Linked DNA regions of Homo sapiens: region 1 is linked to region 2. The links come from fine-mapping of genetic effects on gene expression. Tissue or cell type: whole blood. Region 2 holds a variant in brackets; the other region holds the start of a gene. All regions are shown on one strand. Distances are from middle to middle.

Evidence for each region. PIP is the estimated chance that this variant, and not a neighbour inherited with it, causes the effect.
Region 1: RAB34 starts here. The variant in region 2 is fine-mapped to the expression of RAB34 in whole blood (INTERVAL, PIP above 0.99).

The regions. Positions count from the first base shown.
Region 1 is chr17:28,713,491-28,721,592 of GRCh38, reverse strand. It overlaps RAB34 (RAB34, member RAS oncogene family), which reads left to right and starts at 3,725. Exons shown (of 10, transcript NM_031934.6): 1 at 3,725-4,380; 2 at 4,599-4,690; 3 at 5,535-5,600; 4 at 5,692-5,793; 5 at 5,888-5,952; 6 at 6,086-6,137; 7 at 6,317-6,398; 8 at 6,471-6,561; 9 at 6,693-6,800; 10 at 6,883-7,309. The coding sequence starts at 4,327. The coding sequence ends at 6,950. It overlaps RPL23A (ribosomal protein L23a), which reads right to left and starts at 1,608. Exons shown (of 5, transcript NM_000984.6): 1 at 1,563-1,608; 2 at 703-886. The coding sequence starts at 1,587. SNORD42B (small nucleolar RNA, C/D box 42B) reads right to left here and starts at 1,043; the gene lies at 977-1,043. RefSeq lists enhancers at 894-1,053, 1,394-1,613, 2,044-2,093, 1,750-2,351, 2,352-2,952 and a silencer at 3,633-3,892.
Region 2 is chr17:28,424,727-28,432,828 of GRCh38, reverse strand. No RefSeq gene overlaps it. Among named protein-coding and RNA genes, the nearest start is that of SLC46A1, 23 kb to the right of the region's middle. The variant A/TTA (reference allele first, on the strand shown) is at 3,460.

The sequences.
Region 1 (8,102 bases), 290 kb before region 2:
CTATACACCGCAGCAGGCCATAACTGCCAAATACAGATAATGGAATCCCCACTATCAATCAAGAATCAATCCACGTTCTCACCCTCAAGGATTGTTCCCGATAGCAGTAGGAGCTATGAGCAAGGAATCTCTGTATTCTACTTTATACTCCCCCCAAAATAAGTTTTCAAACCGTGACCACATGTGAAGCAATAATTAACCTAACAAATTTTGAGAGACTCAGGGTTTTTTTTTTTTTGAGACAGAGTTTCACTCTTATTGCCCAGGCTGGAATGCAATGGTACGATCTCCGCTCACCGCAACCTCCACCTCCCGGGTTCAAGCGATTCTCCTGCCTCAGCCTCCCGCGAGTAGCTGGGATTACAGACATGCGCCACCATGCCCGGCGAATTTTCTATTTTTAATAGACGCGGGGTTTCTCCATGTCACTCAGGCTGGTCTCGAACCCCTGACCTCAAGTGATCCGCCCCCCCTCGGCCTCCCAAAGTGCTGGGATTACAGACGTGAGCCACCGCGCCCGGCCTCTGGGCTGATCCTGCCAGTTTTGTAAATGCAGCAGAAACAATCTCCTCATACTTCCAATTAGAGAAGCACACTGGACACAATTTGCGTTTGAGAAACCATCACGCAGAGTGAGTGAATTTCCAAATTACCAATGGAGAATACCCAAATCTTTTCATGGGTACAGGGGGCAGTACTGACTTGTTTCTCCTGGGAGCGCTCTTCCGAGGATATTTGGGCTGTCTCCGGAGTCGCAGTGTCTTCGGCCGCCGGAAGGTGGGTGACGTGCGGATCTTCTTCTTTTTGTGGCTGTGGACACCTTTCAACACTGCCTTCTTGGCCTTTAAAGCCTTCGCTTTGGCTTCAGCTTTAGGAGGGGCAGGAGCTGGGAGAAAAGGAAAGAAAACGTGGGTGCGGGATTTAGAAATCGGTCACTTCCGGCCCCAAGAACTGCAGTGGGCCACCCTGGCCACAGGTGCATCAGTGGTTCCTTTGAAGACATCACAAGTGTCAGGAGATTAAAACTTTTCCATCATATGCACGATACCAGAGGCGAAAGCGACCAACTCTAAGTAACTCCAGGGATACGACTATGAAACAAAGTAGCACTGAATGAACGCTTGATACTTTCCAGAAAATGTCCTACGAATTTTACACATACCCCATCGCAAAACCACGCTGCGGAGAGAGGGGCGGGTAATGTAGCCCGGTTGAACATGAACCAGAAGGAAAATGGTTAAAGCTGAGGGCACTAATTCCTTACAGGCCCGGGGACATGGAGCTCCAACCAGTGGATGCATGTAGCTTCCCAGAACCGAATGTCTGGCCCTCCCTGGCGGATGATGCCTGCCGCGTTGCCCCCCCCCAACTCCCTCTACCGGAACTCAGCCCACGAGGCTGGGCCCACGCGGCCCACGTATACTGCAGCGTGTCCGAAACGCAGGGAGCAGCCCCGGAGCAGAGCCCTCAGGGCTTAGCCCAGCAGCCGTGTTCCCAATTCGTTCGCTCTGCGGCGCGGCAATCCCCGGTAAACCAGCTGCGGCCCCATCACCAACACACACCTTCCTTCTTCGCTTTCGGCGCCATCTTGTGAAAAGGGTCTCCAATGCTCGTTCCCACGGGCTTATAGCGCCAAAGAGCACTAAAGACTCGCGATGCTTTGTACTTAGAGCTGATTGGGTAATTTGCAGAGCGGCGCCCTCTGGGAACGGTAGTTAGGTTTAATTTCTTTTTCGTGCGTGAACAAACATGCGCCACTCCTCCCCTCAAAGGCACTAAAGCTTCATGGGGGTTGTAGTTTTTTGTTTTTTGTTTTTTGTTTTTTTTTTGAGCGCTCTGTCGCCCAGGCTGGAGTGCAGTGGCGCGATCTCGGCTCACTGTAAGCTCCGCCTCCCGGGTTTACGCCATTCTCCTGCCTCAGCCACCAGAGTAGCTGGGACTACAGGCGCGTGCCACCATGGGGATTGTAGTTTTTTGAAGACACGCGTTTATTTGCTCAGGCCAGCGGACGGCGTAGCCGGCTGGCGCTCGGGTCTGGTCCCGGGAGCTTCCTATCTTGAGCAACTGCCAGTCTCAGGGAAGAGGATTGCCATGCCAGGAGGCAGGAACGCTGCCAAGAGGAAAGAACACATTTGGATTGACTCGGGAGTTAGATACAGCTAAGTTCTAGAGTGCTGGAGCAGGATTTGCTCGGTCGAACTGAGGTCCAGAGAGGAATGTGGTTTATCAATAACACAGTGATTTGGTGGCAGAAAAAAATCAAGTCAGGGCCGGGCGCGGTGACTCACGCCTGTAATCCCAGCACTTTGTGAGGCCGAGGTGGACGAATTGCTTCGAGCCCAGGAGTTCGAGACCACCCTGGGCAACACGGCGAAACCCTGTCTCTACAAAAGAATACAAAAATTAGCCGGGCGTGGTGGTGCGTGCCTGTAGTCCCAGTTCCTTGGGAGGCTGAGGTGGGAGGATCGCTTCAGCCCTGGAGGTCGAGGCTGCAATGAGCCATTCCAGCCTGGGTGGCAGAGTGAGACCCTGTCTCAAAATAAATAAATAAATAAATAAATAAATAATCGAGTCACGAGGGGGAAGTGTCAGAGGAAGTACAAGGCGGCCACACCTGCCCCTCTTTACCTGCGACACTGATACTGTCAAGTTTTACTGCGTTTCCTGATAATGCATTTGAAGTTCTATGAAAATTCCACACATTTCTCCAAGATTCGCTAGTTTTTCCGGTTAGTAACTTCACTCACAATCCCCTGCCCTAAACTAGTCTTCCCTTCCGTGTCCTGGTCATCTTTACATCCTCAAATTCAGCTCCAGACACAGAGAAAGGTTTCTTAACACTCAGGTTCGCTTCTCCTAAGGTGTGTGCCTAACCCATCCCCACTTGATCCTTTCTTCTTCCCTCTCCCTTCATAAAACCAGACATGTCCCCTTTGACGGTGAAATTGATTGTGCACTGCCCCCTCTTCTATCCTGCAGGACTTTGCACAAAGGAGTTGTCCCTGGGGGATAGATTCCAATGGGGCCAGAACAATGAACACCCATACCAGAGGGGAGTCCCCGCCTCCCAGAGCGGAGACCACCCCGAAGAGCAGAGTTTCCGGGTCCACTTAGCCCTTCTTTAACCTCCCTCGAGGGAACTTGATCTTCAGCCCTCCCACCTCACAATCTACACAGCAGCCTTGAAGGAAAAGACGCCAGACTTCAGACGTCTCTCTCCTCGGTGGGCACCTCATTCTAACCCTGGCACCCCCTTCGCACGCTTCCCCTCCACCATCCTCACCCCCGACCTCCCAGGGCAGAAGGGCGAGAGGGGGCAGACTCTATGAGTCACCTCCCAGGCCTGGAGTTGAGGAGGGAAGCGCCGCCTCTCCTTGGGCCCCTTCTCTCCCCCTTTCCCCTCCCTGCTGGTTCCTGGCATCGCCAGATGCTGCGCAGCAGTCTCCGATTCCCCATCACCAATTCGGCTGGGTAAGGGTCCCCATGAAGGCGCAGCCGGGTATAGAGGTGCAGGGGAGAGCAGCCTGGGGAGTCCCTATCTGGATAGGCTCCAGCCTGGGTCGGGGCGGTCCTGGTGCCCGGTGAAGCGTCAAAAGAGGGAGCCTGAGCGGGGCAACGCAGAAGGGTGGAGAGGAGGGGGTGGCGAGGGCGGGCAGCGAGGCCTGGAGCCGCCAGGAGAGGGGCGGGGGGCGGCCCTTCTCCAGGAATTTCCGGGGATCGTGTTACAGCGTTGGCGGAGCCCGAGCGGAGTGGGACTCGAGGCCCTGTAGCCGGACTGGGCCCCTCGCCCCCTCCTCCAGCGGCCTGCGGGCCTTGGCAGCGCCGCCCCTGCCCACACTGACCCCGTGTGGCGGGGCCGCTCCGCGCCCCCGGGCCGCTCTGTAATGGTAGGGCAGCCTCAGCCCCGAGATGACGTCGGGTCTCCGCGGCCCCGGGTTATTGTAGGAACCATCCGGCCCCGCGTAATCGTAGGAACTATCCGGCCCCGCGTAATCGTAGGGTCTGCGCGGGCCCGGCCCCCACCAGACGGGACTCCCCGCCCCCAATTGGCGGCCGAAGAGTCTCCTCGCCCCAGAGTCATCTTCGGGACGCCCAGGGCCCGGGTGATTTTGGGCTCGCCGCGGCCCCGGGTGATTGTTTCATCTCCGTGGCCCGCGGTGGTCGTAGCGTCTCCGAGACCGCGGACTCCCGTAGGGTCCCCGTGGCCCCGAGTTGTAGTCGGGACACCCCGGCCGCGGGTGATCGTCGGGTCTCCACGCGCCCGGGTCGCTGACGCGGATCCGGCCTCGGCGCCTTCTCAGGGCGCCCTGCAAGGCCGCAGGCAGGATGAACATTCTGGCACCCGTGCGGAGGGATCGCGTCCTGGCGGAGCTGCCCCAGGTAGGCGCCGGGGCCACGTCGGGCTTCAGTCTACAGCCCGGGGTGTGGGCGAGGAGGAGGCGGCACCAGACCAGTTAGAGGACTGGGCCCAGCCCTGCCACCCAGCTAGGCCTGGTGCTTCTGGGTGGTCCCTGCACTCCACCCCTACCCGGGCCGCTTGGCTGCGGGACAAGGGCCAGGAGTAGGAAGCTCCATTCTCTTCCATCCTTCCCACTAAGTGCCTGAGGAAGGAGGCCGCTTTGCACGGGCACAAAGACTTCCACCCCCGCGTCACCTGCGCCTGCCAGGAGCACCGGACAGGCACCGTGGGGTGAGTTAGGGACACCCACAACAAAGAGAGGAGGTCCCAGGAAACTCTGTAGTCATAGCGAGGGTAAACAACCACCCCCTTGGGGCTTCATTTCAGCCCCTACCAGCTATATGGTTATTTCCCCCTCTTTAAGCCCCTGTATCCCCTCCTTTTCTCCCAACAAGGTTGTTGTGAGTTCTATGAGATGGGGTTGGGTAGAAGGGTGGCAGCTGGATTTCTGAGTAGAGACTAAGGTGTCTGAAATGGGAAGGTGGTCACCTGCTCAGATCCCCACATAGCATCCATGGAGCCCCAGGGCAGGGGTCTGGCTGTGCTTACAGGGATGAGTCTTATTGTGGGTTTTAAAGGTAATACTGATAACAGTTGGCACCATTAATTAAGCATTTGCTGTGTGCCAGGCAGTGTTGGGTACTATCATCTTTATTGAATGGAAAAGTCCATCACTTAAGATATATCCTGATTTCAGACATTAAAATGCGGGGGGGAGGGTGTCTTAGAATATAGGACATTTATCTCATTTTAACCTTCACAACGACCCAGTAAAATATATACTAACTTTACTTAAATGTTTAAACTGAGGCTTAGAGAGGCTAAATAACGTGTCCAAAGTCACACAGCTAATCAGTGTGAGAGCTGGGATTCAAATTCATGTCTCTCTGCTTCTGGAGCACAAAACACTCCTCCTCCCCAGCACACCTGTCCACGCAGCTGCCTGGGATGCCTGGTGTCTATAATACCCTCAGCCTGGGTGCAGCTACCTTTCTGGACCTAGTCGGGAGCATTGGAACTCCCTAGGGTGAAAGAGCTCGTGCCCACTCCCCTTGCCCACTCTTGTGTCCAGCAGATTTAAGATCTCCAAGGTCATTGTGGTGGGGGACCTGTCGGTGGGGAAGACTTGCCTCATTAATAGGTAAGGGGGTGCTGGAGCTGAGCTGGGCAGGGTGGGGCCAAGCCTAGCCAGGTGGGCTGGCTCCAGATCACAGCATCTGGTACCCTCTCAGGTTCTGCAAAGACACCTTTGATAAGAATTACAAGGCCACCATTGGAGTGGACTTCGAGATGGAACGATTTGAGGTGCTGGGCATTCCCTTCAGTTTGCAGCTGTGAGTGCTTCCACACCCCTTCCAGCTATCCCTTCTCCCCAGCACCCACACCCCCCAAGATACATACCTGTGCTTCACTCTTCCTTCCTTCCAGTTGGGATACCGCTGGGCAGGAGAGGTTCAAATGCATTGCATCAACCTACTATAGAGGAGCTCAAGGTAAGGGGCTGGGTGAAGTGGGGTAGGTGGGTCTCAGAGTGCACATGGCTTCTCATATGGAGCTGGAAGGATTGGGGAAATGAGCAGTAGTGTCTTCCCTGTCAACCTGGGGCTGTTTCTGCCACTCTTCCAGCCATCATCATTGTCTTCAACCTGAATGATGTGGCATCTCTGGAACATACCAAGTAAGTGAGCATCCTGCAATATAATGGGAGGCTCCGGGAAGAGAGGGTTCAGAACAGAGGGGTGGTCAGGAAGAAGAAGAATGCATGTAGGACCAGAGAGGGGGTAATTGGGCCTATGAATGTCAGTGGGAGGGGCCCTGCAGACTCACTCATCCCTTACTTTCCACCTCCCATGGCAGGCAGTGGCTGGCCGATGCCCTGAAGGAGAATGACCCTTCCAGTGTGCTTCTCTTCCTTGTAGGTTCCAAGAAGGATCTGAGTGTGAGTGTGCCAGTGGGGGGACTTCCCAGCTTGGTGAGGGAATGCCCCCCTCTGACTCTGGCCTTCCCTCAGACCCCTGCTCAGTATGCGCTGATGGAGAAAGACGCCCTCCAGGTGGCCCAGGAGATGAAGGCTGAGTACTGGGCAGTCTCATCTCTCACTGGTGAGTTGGAGGCTTTAGGGCTCTGCTGTGACACTCTTGCCTGGCTCTCCTCTCACTGCTACACCTCCAGCTGTGCCCTGTGTCCCCAGACCCAGCACTGCCCCTGAGCACCTATCTGCTCTCTGTGTCAGGTGAGAATGTCCGAGAATTCTTCTTCCGTGTGGCAGCACTGACCTTTGAGGCCAATGTGCTGGCTGAGCTGGAGAAATCGGGGGCTCGACGCATTGGGGATGTTGTCCGTGAGTGCTTGCCTGGTTGAGGGTGGCAGAGGGCACAGTGAGCCTCCAATCCCTGCTTCACATATTTTCCACCCTTCTTTAGGCATCAACAGTGATGACAGCAACCTCTACCTAACTGCCAGCAAGAAGAAGCCCACATGTTGCCCATGAGGGCTGAGGAGACTGTTCAGAGACTGCCCAGCCCTAGGGCACTGTGCCACCCTCATTCCTCCAGAGCTTGACCCCTGGACATTTGCACTGACTTTATCCAGACCAAAGAGCTGCCTCTTGGTGGCAGTATTCCCACAGAGGGGTAGCTGGGATCATGCTAGTCACTTCCTGCCCCCAGGCACCGTGCCAAAGACTGGATGCCCCCTACTCCTCAGGGGACTGTCCAGGGCGCCCAGTGGTAGTGAGGGAGAGTGTCTCTGTTCTTTTGCTCAGCCTGCTGGGCCCTTTGTGTTTGAGGATGCTTAATGATTCCAGCCTCTCACTGTGCCTTATGCATTAAAATTTCTTTGTTACGAGCACTTTGGGGCTGGAGTTCTTTGTTGGGGATGATGGATGTGGAATGGGCATGACTGTGTGGCCATTTTGGCACTAGAGTCCCCTGGGGATGCTGTGCTGGCCATCCCTGGCCCCTGGGCAGGTTCAGGTAGGCTGGGAGCTGAAACATCAGTTTGGGGGCTGCACTGGGCCCTCACTGGGTGAAGTCTGAATGGCTGGCTTTGAGAGCCCTTTCCCCTGATCCTTTCCCCACACGTGTCCTCCTACTTGGTGCTTATACCCAAATTTTCACCACTGGAGAATCTTTTTCTTTTTTTCACCCTTTTCTTGCCTTCCCTTTAAGAAGTACTTTTCCAGGCAGGGTGCGGTGGCTCGTGCCTGTAATCTCAGCACTTTGGGAGGCCAAGGCAGGCAGATCACTTGGATTCAGGAGTTCGAGACCAGCCTGGCCAACATGGTGAAACCCGCGTCACCATTAAAATCCAAAAATTAGGCCGGGCGCGGTGGCTCATGCCTGTAATCCCAGCACTTTGGGAGGCTGAGGCGGGCGGATCACGAGGTCAGGAGATAGAGACCATCCTGGCTAACATGGTGAAACTAAAAATGCAAAAAATTAGCCAGGCGTGGTGGCTGGTGCCTGTAGTCCCAGCTACTTGGGAGGCTGAGGCAGGAGAATGGCCTGAACCTGGCAGGCGGAGCTTGCAGTGAGCCGAGATGGCACCACTGCACTCCAGCCTGGGTGACAGAGCGAGACTCTGTCTCATAAAAAAAAATAAATAAAATAAAATACAAAAATTAGCCGGGCGTGGTGGTGCA
Region 2 (8,102 bases):
TCTCCTCATACCAATCATCCCCTTTTGTCTCATATAGTCCATTATCTTATTTCTATCTAGTTATTTTTCATAGCTTCCCTCAAGTTAAACATTATTATTTATCTTTTGTGCAGTTAATGTTTGATATACCTACTTGCTTATCAATTCATTGGCACACAACTCCTTCTTTCATCCCAAACCTTTTTTCCAGGATCACTTATTATCCTACATGGACCTATGAATTGAATGATTTGCGTCTTTCATGAATTCTGGAAACGACTCAGCCAATACCTCTGCAAAGAGCTGGGCATGGGCAACATAGCAACACTCTGTCTCTAAACATTTTTTTAAAAGGTCTACTCTAGACGCTCCTCCTAGAATTCAGAGTAGACCTATGTTAGACTTCATACTTTATTCTATCCTGTAGGTTTTATACCTCTATTTTATTTGCCTTTGTGCTGAATTCTGAGTATTTCTTCAGCTCTATCTTCAGTTCTTCATTTCACTAATTCACTCTTCATCTGTGTCCAGTCAACACAGATGATGTTTAGCCTGTCCTCTGAATTTGGTTTACTTTTATAAAAAAGCAAAACACAACAAAGCCAAATTTATCTATCATCTATCTATTTGAGACAAGTAGGAGAGAATGGGGTGGAGGAGAGTATATGGCTAAGAGAATTTTTTAAAAGATGAGATCAATTTAGCATGCGTAAATGCTGACAGGAAGGACCTGAGAGAGAGAGAGAGAGTCCAGGTTTTCCTATTCTTCCACGTGGAGTAGATATGATCCATTAGCAACTGTTGGATCTTCTATTGTTAGGCTTGGTTCCTAATTGTGATCCACAGCATCTATTCTACCTGATTTAAGCAGAAAGAAAGTTATTGGTAGATATCAAGTGGCTCAAAGAGGGCTGGGCATGGTGGCTCATGCCCGTAATCTCAGCACTAATCCCAGCACTTTGGGAAGTCAAGGTGGGAGGATCACTTGAGCCCAGGAGTTCAAGATGTGGCAAGACCCCATCTCTACAAAAAATAAAAATGTTAGCTGGGTGTGGTGGAGTGTGCCTGTAGTCTCAACTACTTTGGAGGCTGAGGCAGGAGGATATCTTGAGTCCAGGTGGTCAAGGTTGCAGTGAGCTGTGATTATGCCACTGCACTCCAGCCTGGGTGACAGAGAAAGACTTTGTCTCAAAAACATATAAAAAAATAAATAAAACAGTGAAATCACCAACAAAAAGCACAAAAATGTAAAAACCATGGCACTAAATAGACCTTGAGGGACATATTTACATTATGAGCTGAAACAAGACAGCAAAGTGTTGCTTTGTTTGACCTCAGCTGGGAATGTGTATTGGATAACTCAAATTTTCACTACATTGTATATGACCCTGAATGACCCCAAAATGCTGAGAAAGTGTCAAGAGTATTAATTTTGAGTCACACATAAATTTTAGCAAGTAGGAGAATTTGCAAATACAAAATCTCCATGTAATGAAACTATGCTAATGTTGGAAACCATTTGGGAAAAGGGGCTCTATTTCTGCCGGGGGTTGGGCTGAGAGGACAGGACCTAAGCTGGGCACTGCCTAGTTGTAGTTCCTTCATTCTTGCTGTATGATATCCCATTGTGTGAATACCCACAATTTATTTGTCTGTTCTACCTGTGATAGACATTTGGGTTGTTTCTAGATACTTGGCTGTCTTAGTCAATACTTGACATTTTCTGTTTTTTACAAAATTTTTTTTAGCCATTCAGATGTAGTAGTATTGGACTGCGGCTTCAATTTGTACTTCTGGTGATCAATGAGATTGTACAATGTTTAATGTTTTTTAGCCATTTGGATGTTTTCTTTTGTGAAGTGTCTGTTCAAGTCCTTTGCCCATTTGTAAAAATTGGGTTTTCTATCCTTTTCATACTGATTTTTAGTTCTTTAGATATCCTGAATATGAGTTCTTTGTCAGTTAAATGTACTACAAATATCTCCTATTCTATGGCTTGCATTTTCACTCTTTTAAGGATATCTTGTGAAGAATAAAAGTTCTTTTTGTGTCCTGTTGAAATAATCTTTGCTTACTCAAAGGCTATTAAGACATACTCCTGTTTTCTTCTAAAAAGCTTTATTATGCCAGGCATGGTGGCTTACACCTGTAATCTGAGCACTTTGGGAGGCCGAGAAGGGCAAATCACCTGAGGTCAGGAGTTCAAGACCAGCCTGGCCAACATGGCGAAACCCCATCTCTAATAAAAATACAAAAATTAGCCGGGTGTGGCGGTGCATGCCTGTAGTCCCAGCTACTCAGGAGGCTGAGGCAAAAGAATAGCTTGAACCCAGGAGGTGGAAGTTACAGTGAGCTGAGATCATGCCACTGCACTCCGGCCTAGGCAACAGAGTGAGACTCTGTCTCAAAAAAAAAAAAAAAAAAAAAAAGGCCGGGCGGTGTGGCGGGCACCTGTAGTCCCAGCTACTCAGGAGGCTGAGGCAGGAGAATGGCGTGAACCTGGGAGGTGGAGCTTGCAGTGAGCCGAGATTGCGCCACTGCACTCCAGCCTGGGTGACAGAGGAAGACTCCGTCCCAAAAAAAAAAAAAAAAAAAAAGAGCTTTATTATCGTACCATTTACAATTTATCTACAATTGATTTCTCTGTAGGAGTAATGTAGAAGTCAATATTTTTTTTCTGAATGGACTATGGACTTTCAATTGACCCAGGAGTACTTATTAAAAACACCTCTGTGATGCTTAATTTTTTTTTTTTTTTTTTGAGAAGGAGTCTCGCTCTGTTGCCAGGCTGAACTGTAGTGGCACGATCTTGGCTGGCTGCAAACTCCACCTCCCGGGTTCAAACAATTCTCCTGCCTCAGCTTCCTGAGTAGCTGGGACTACAGGCACGTGCCACCACACCCAGCTAATTTTTGTATTTTTAGTAGAGATGGGGTTTTCACCATGTTGGCCAGAATGGTCTTGATCTCTTGACCTCATGATCTGCCCACCTCGGCCTCCCAAAGTGCTGGGATTATAGGTGTGAGCCACTGTGCCCAGTGAATTTTTATATCAACTTAACTGGGCTAAGGGATGTCCACATAGCTGGGTGTGTTTGTGAAGGTGTTTCCAGAATAGATTAGCATTTGAATTGAAATACCGCGTAAAGAAGATCACCCTCACCAATGTGGGCAGGCGTCATCCAAGCCACTGAGGGCCTGAAAAGAACAAAATGCTGAGGAAGGGTGAATTCAGTTTCTCTATTTGAGCTGGGACATTCCTCTTCTCCTGTTCTTGGACATCAGTGCTCCTGGTTCTCATACCTTCATACTCAACCCGAATTATACCCTCAGATTTCCTGATTCTCCAGCTTGCAGGTGGTAGATCATGGGACCTGATGGTTTCCGTAATCATTTGGGCCAATTCCTATAATAAATCTCTCTTTCTCTCCACACACACACACATACACACACACACACACACACACACACACACACACAC[A/TTA]ACTTATATTTATATTTATATTTATGTATCTCCTATTGGTTCGGTTTCTTTGGAAAACCCTGTCTAATACAACCATCTTGAGGGTGGGAAGTATAAGAGACATTCCTATGGCTTATGAAGGGGATCTCTGAAAAATTAGAATTACTTTAGACACTTTTGGTTGTTAGACTGTTGTTTGTCCACAACATGGTCCCAAAACGAGGTCAGGTGAAGCACCAAAGTTTATTTTGCAATATTCTTTATCTCTAGGTAGAGTTCTAAATACATGGTTTTTTTTTTTTTTTTTTTGAGACAGAGTCTTGCTCTGTCACCCAGGCTGGAGTGCAGTGGTGCCATCTCGGCTCACTGCAACCTCTGCCTCCCGGGTTCAAGTGATTCTCCTGCCTCAGCCTCCCGAGTAGCTGAGATTACAGGCACTTGCCACCATGCCCGGCTAATTTTTGTATTTTTAGTAGAGATGGGGTTTCACCATGTTGTCTAGGCTGGTCTCGAACTCCTGACCTCAGGTGATCTGCCCGCCTCAGCCTCCCAAAGTGCTGGGATTACAGGTGTCAGCCACCACACCCGGCCTTAAATACATGTTTTCAAGATTTGGGTCAGGTGCAGTGGCTCATACCTGTAACCCCAGCACTTTGGGAGGCTGAGGCAGGAGAATCACATGAGGCCAAGAGTTCAAGACCAGCCTGGGCAACATGGCAAGATACTGTCTCTACAAAAAAAAAAATTTAAAAATTAGCTAAGCATGATGGCACACACCTGTGGTCCCAGCTACTCAGAATGCTGAGGCAGGAGGATTGCTTGAGCCCAGGAGTTTGAGACTACACTAAACTATCAGAGCACCATCGCACTCCAACCTGGGTGGACAGATCAAGACCCCCATCTCTAACAAAAACAAATGTATTTAAAAAAATTTTTTTAAAGAGATTGGGTATTGCCATGTTGCCCAGGCTGGCCTTGAACTCCTGGGCTCAGGAAATCCTCCCACCTCAGCCTCCCAAAGTGCTGGGATTACAGGCATGAGCTACCATGCCCAGCCTATTTTTAAAATGTTAAATAGCAATAGAATTCAGCAATATACAAAATAATTATACACAGTGACTAAGAGAGGTTAACTGTAGGCATGCAAGGTTATTTCAATATTTCAAAACCAAACAATGTAATTTCTTCGGCAACACTGAGGATATAAGATAAACACAAAAAAATCAATTGTGTGTCTCTATAAATTGACCCTTGAACAGCACAATTTTTTTTTTTTTTTTGAGATGAAGTTTTGCTCTTGTTGCCCAGGCTGGAGTGCAATGGCGTGATCTCGGCTCACCATAACCTCTGCCTCCTGGGTTCAAGCAATTCTTCTACCTCAGCCTCCCAAGTAGCTGGGATTACCGGCATGTGCCACCACGCCTGGCTAATTTTGTATTTTTAGAAGAGGCAGGGTTTCTCCATGTTGGTCAGGCTGGTCTCAAATTCCAGACCTCAAGTGATCTGCCCGCCTCGGCCTCCCAAAGTGCTGGGATTACAGGCGTGAGCCACCTAACTCGGTTGTGAACAGCACAATTTTAACTGTATGGGTTCTCTTGTATGCAGATTGTTCTCTATAAATATTTTGATGAAATATACACAAATCTATTTCAAAAGTTAACATTTATCGAAATATGTACACACAGATAATACACAGTGCCATTGCCATTTGCGGTCAAGAGAAATGTAAACAAATGTAAGGATGCAGTATTAAATCATAACTGCATAAAATTAACTGTAGCACAGACTATACCACTGTAATTATTTCCACCTCCTGTTGCTATTGTGATGAGCTCAAGCGTGTGAGTATCTGCTTACAATACCATATGGTGCTAACCGTCTCCATGTGAGCAGTTCGTGTCTTCAGTAAATTGCATATTGCAGTAAAAAGTAATCTCCTGCAGTTCTCATGTATTTTTTCCTTCCTTTCTTCCCTCCCTCCCTCCCTTCCTTCTCTTTCTTTCTTTTTTTTTTTTGACAGAGTCTCACTCGGCTCCCCACGATGGAGTGCAGTGGCGCCATCTTGGCTCAGTGCAAACTCTGTGACCCAGGTTCAAGCGATGCTCCTGTCTCAGCCTCCTGAGTAGCTGGAATTACAGATGCATGCCACCACACCTGGCTAATTTTTGTAGTTTTAGTAGAGACGGGGTTTCACCATGTTGGCCAGGCTGGTCTCAAACTCCTGACCTCAGGTAATCCACCCACCTTGGCCTCCCAACATGCTGGGATTACAGGTATGAGCCACCGTGCCCGGCCCAGGTAATTTTTTAAAAAGTGCCGGGATGAGCCACTGCAACCAGCCTTCTTCTTGTTTTTTTTTTTTTGTTTTTTTGTTTTTTTTTTTTGTTTTGTTTTGTTTTCCTGGGGAATAAGGTACAGCCTGACTTCTGGGGATACCCAATACATGGGGGTTAAGCATGGCAGGTGGTGGCTGGCTGGCTGATGGGGGTCTAGGGAAGAAGTGCTGGCAGTCAAGTCTGGAGAGAGTGAGAGGTCTTGAGTGATCAGAGAAACCCCAGCAAAGGGGTGTGTGCTGGGAAGGAAGTTCCTGGTGGGAGGGCATGTGAAATGTTGACAGGCTAACACTTTAATAGTGTGTACCTTTTGTCCCAGCGTAAAGCCCCACAGGGCTGAGGGTCTGGTCCCTTGAAGGGACACCACCAGCACAGTCTGATCCTTGCAACATCCTAGGGCAGTCCTGGTGCCTGTACTTCTACATAGGTGACTTGGAACGTGGCTTGCTAGATGTAACTGCTCATTCACAGGACTCGAGTTTACAGGACTCGTCATTATATAAGTCAACCCACCAAAAACCAAATCTGTGCCATGACAAGTCTTTGGGAAATATGCCTGCTTAATACTGGCTCACTTTCCAGATGTATACAGCTGGGTCCCTATCTGCCGGTTGGGGACTTTTTCCCTGTGTTGGAGAGCACTGTGGTACCAGGCGTGGCCACCAGGAGGGAAACAAGCAGCCTGGGCCAGGTCTGGAGGAAGTCCATGAGGACCCAAGGAGAGAAGGAAAAGGGAGGCAGCTGAGGCTCCCAGTTAGCAAAAAGCGGGGAAGCCTCCCGAGCTGTGGACATTGGAATTCGTCTTGCTGCCGAAGCCTGGTCCCTGGCATTATCTGTGGGGTGGTGAGCACTGAACCCACATATACTCCATAAGTCCTAGCCTGTCCCCAGGTGAGGTCGGCTCTGAACACTATGCCCACTCCCCATGTAGCCCCGGCCTGCTACTGCCCCGGCCTGGAAGGCCCTATGCCTACACCACCTGCCTGTTTGCTGGAGAAACTCTTTCCTACTCAACCTTCTAGACTCACCTTGGATACCTCCTGCTCCCGGAAGCCCATTCCCTGTCTGGAGCAGGCACTGACACAGAGCCCTGTACTTCCCCCATCGGAGTACTAGACTGTTGCTTCTCTGAGGAGAATATGTCTTGCCTCATCTAGCAGTGCCTGTCATGCTATGAATAATAGCTGGATGACTGAAAAAGTCATATTTTAAGACAGCAACAGGCATGGTGGCTCACTCGTCTGGTGGCTGTACTGAGCCACCGAGGATGCCCTGCCAGACAGGATGTTCTATGTATTATATGCCGTATAATATATAATACAGCCACACTCTGGCTGCACAGCTGCCTTCAGGATTACCTGCCGCAGGGCTCTGCTGCTCAGAAGCAAGCCACGAACAGACTCTGCCAGAGCCTGACCACACTTACCCTGCACAATGCACTAAATCTTCCCCATCCCGGCTTCCTTCATCTTCAGAATTTGCTCGAGGTATGACATAAAGATATCAGCATGGATAGCAACGTTTTCCCCTGATAACAATCTGTTCACCTTTCGATAGCAGCATCTCGCTCTGCCTGCCCCACTGGCTGCAGCCTTGCAGGAACTGTCGTCAAGATGCTTCCCTCCTTGCCAAGGGGCAGGCATGCAACGCAGGCCGGCCGGCCAGCCTCTCTAGTTCCCAGAACTGCCATCTTGGGTCGAGTGATGGAACAGAGTTAGAGCGCATGCCTCGTGATAGCAGCATCCTGTAAAGTGTGTTGGGTGGTTCCTGCTACCTGGATTCCCAGAATGATCCTCTTTCCTGTCCTACTTGTGTCCTGGTTGTTCAACATTCTTCGTATTCTGAGAGCTACCATTCAAAGAAATTCCTCAAAAAAAAAAAAAAAAACAAAAAAAAAACAAAAAAAAAAAACAAAAAAACCACACACAGCCAGAATTTGTTGCTATTCCCCTTGCAAGTAGAGAACATTAAATGTTACAAATGGGCTAAATCTAAGATGGTGACATGACATCTAAGGAATAAATGCATAGGCCAGAAAATGGGTCCAAAACCACCTGCACTTGGGCCACGTTGTGAAGTGAATGCAGGAGCAGAGCGAGGAGAGAGCTGGAGGGTCCCGGGAATGATACTGCATGCAGGAGCCACCAAGGCAGTGAGAGTGCCCTCTTCTCCCCAGTTAAGCCTTCATTAATTGGGACACAGAACCTGAACGAGTCAGGTGAAGCTCATGCTACGTCTGCAAGAAAGCCCATGTTGGAGAGAAATCTGGGAATTCCATCAAAGGAAGGGTGGTTGAGGGAGCAGAGTTGTTCAGCCTGGAGCAGAGAAGCC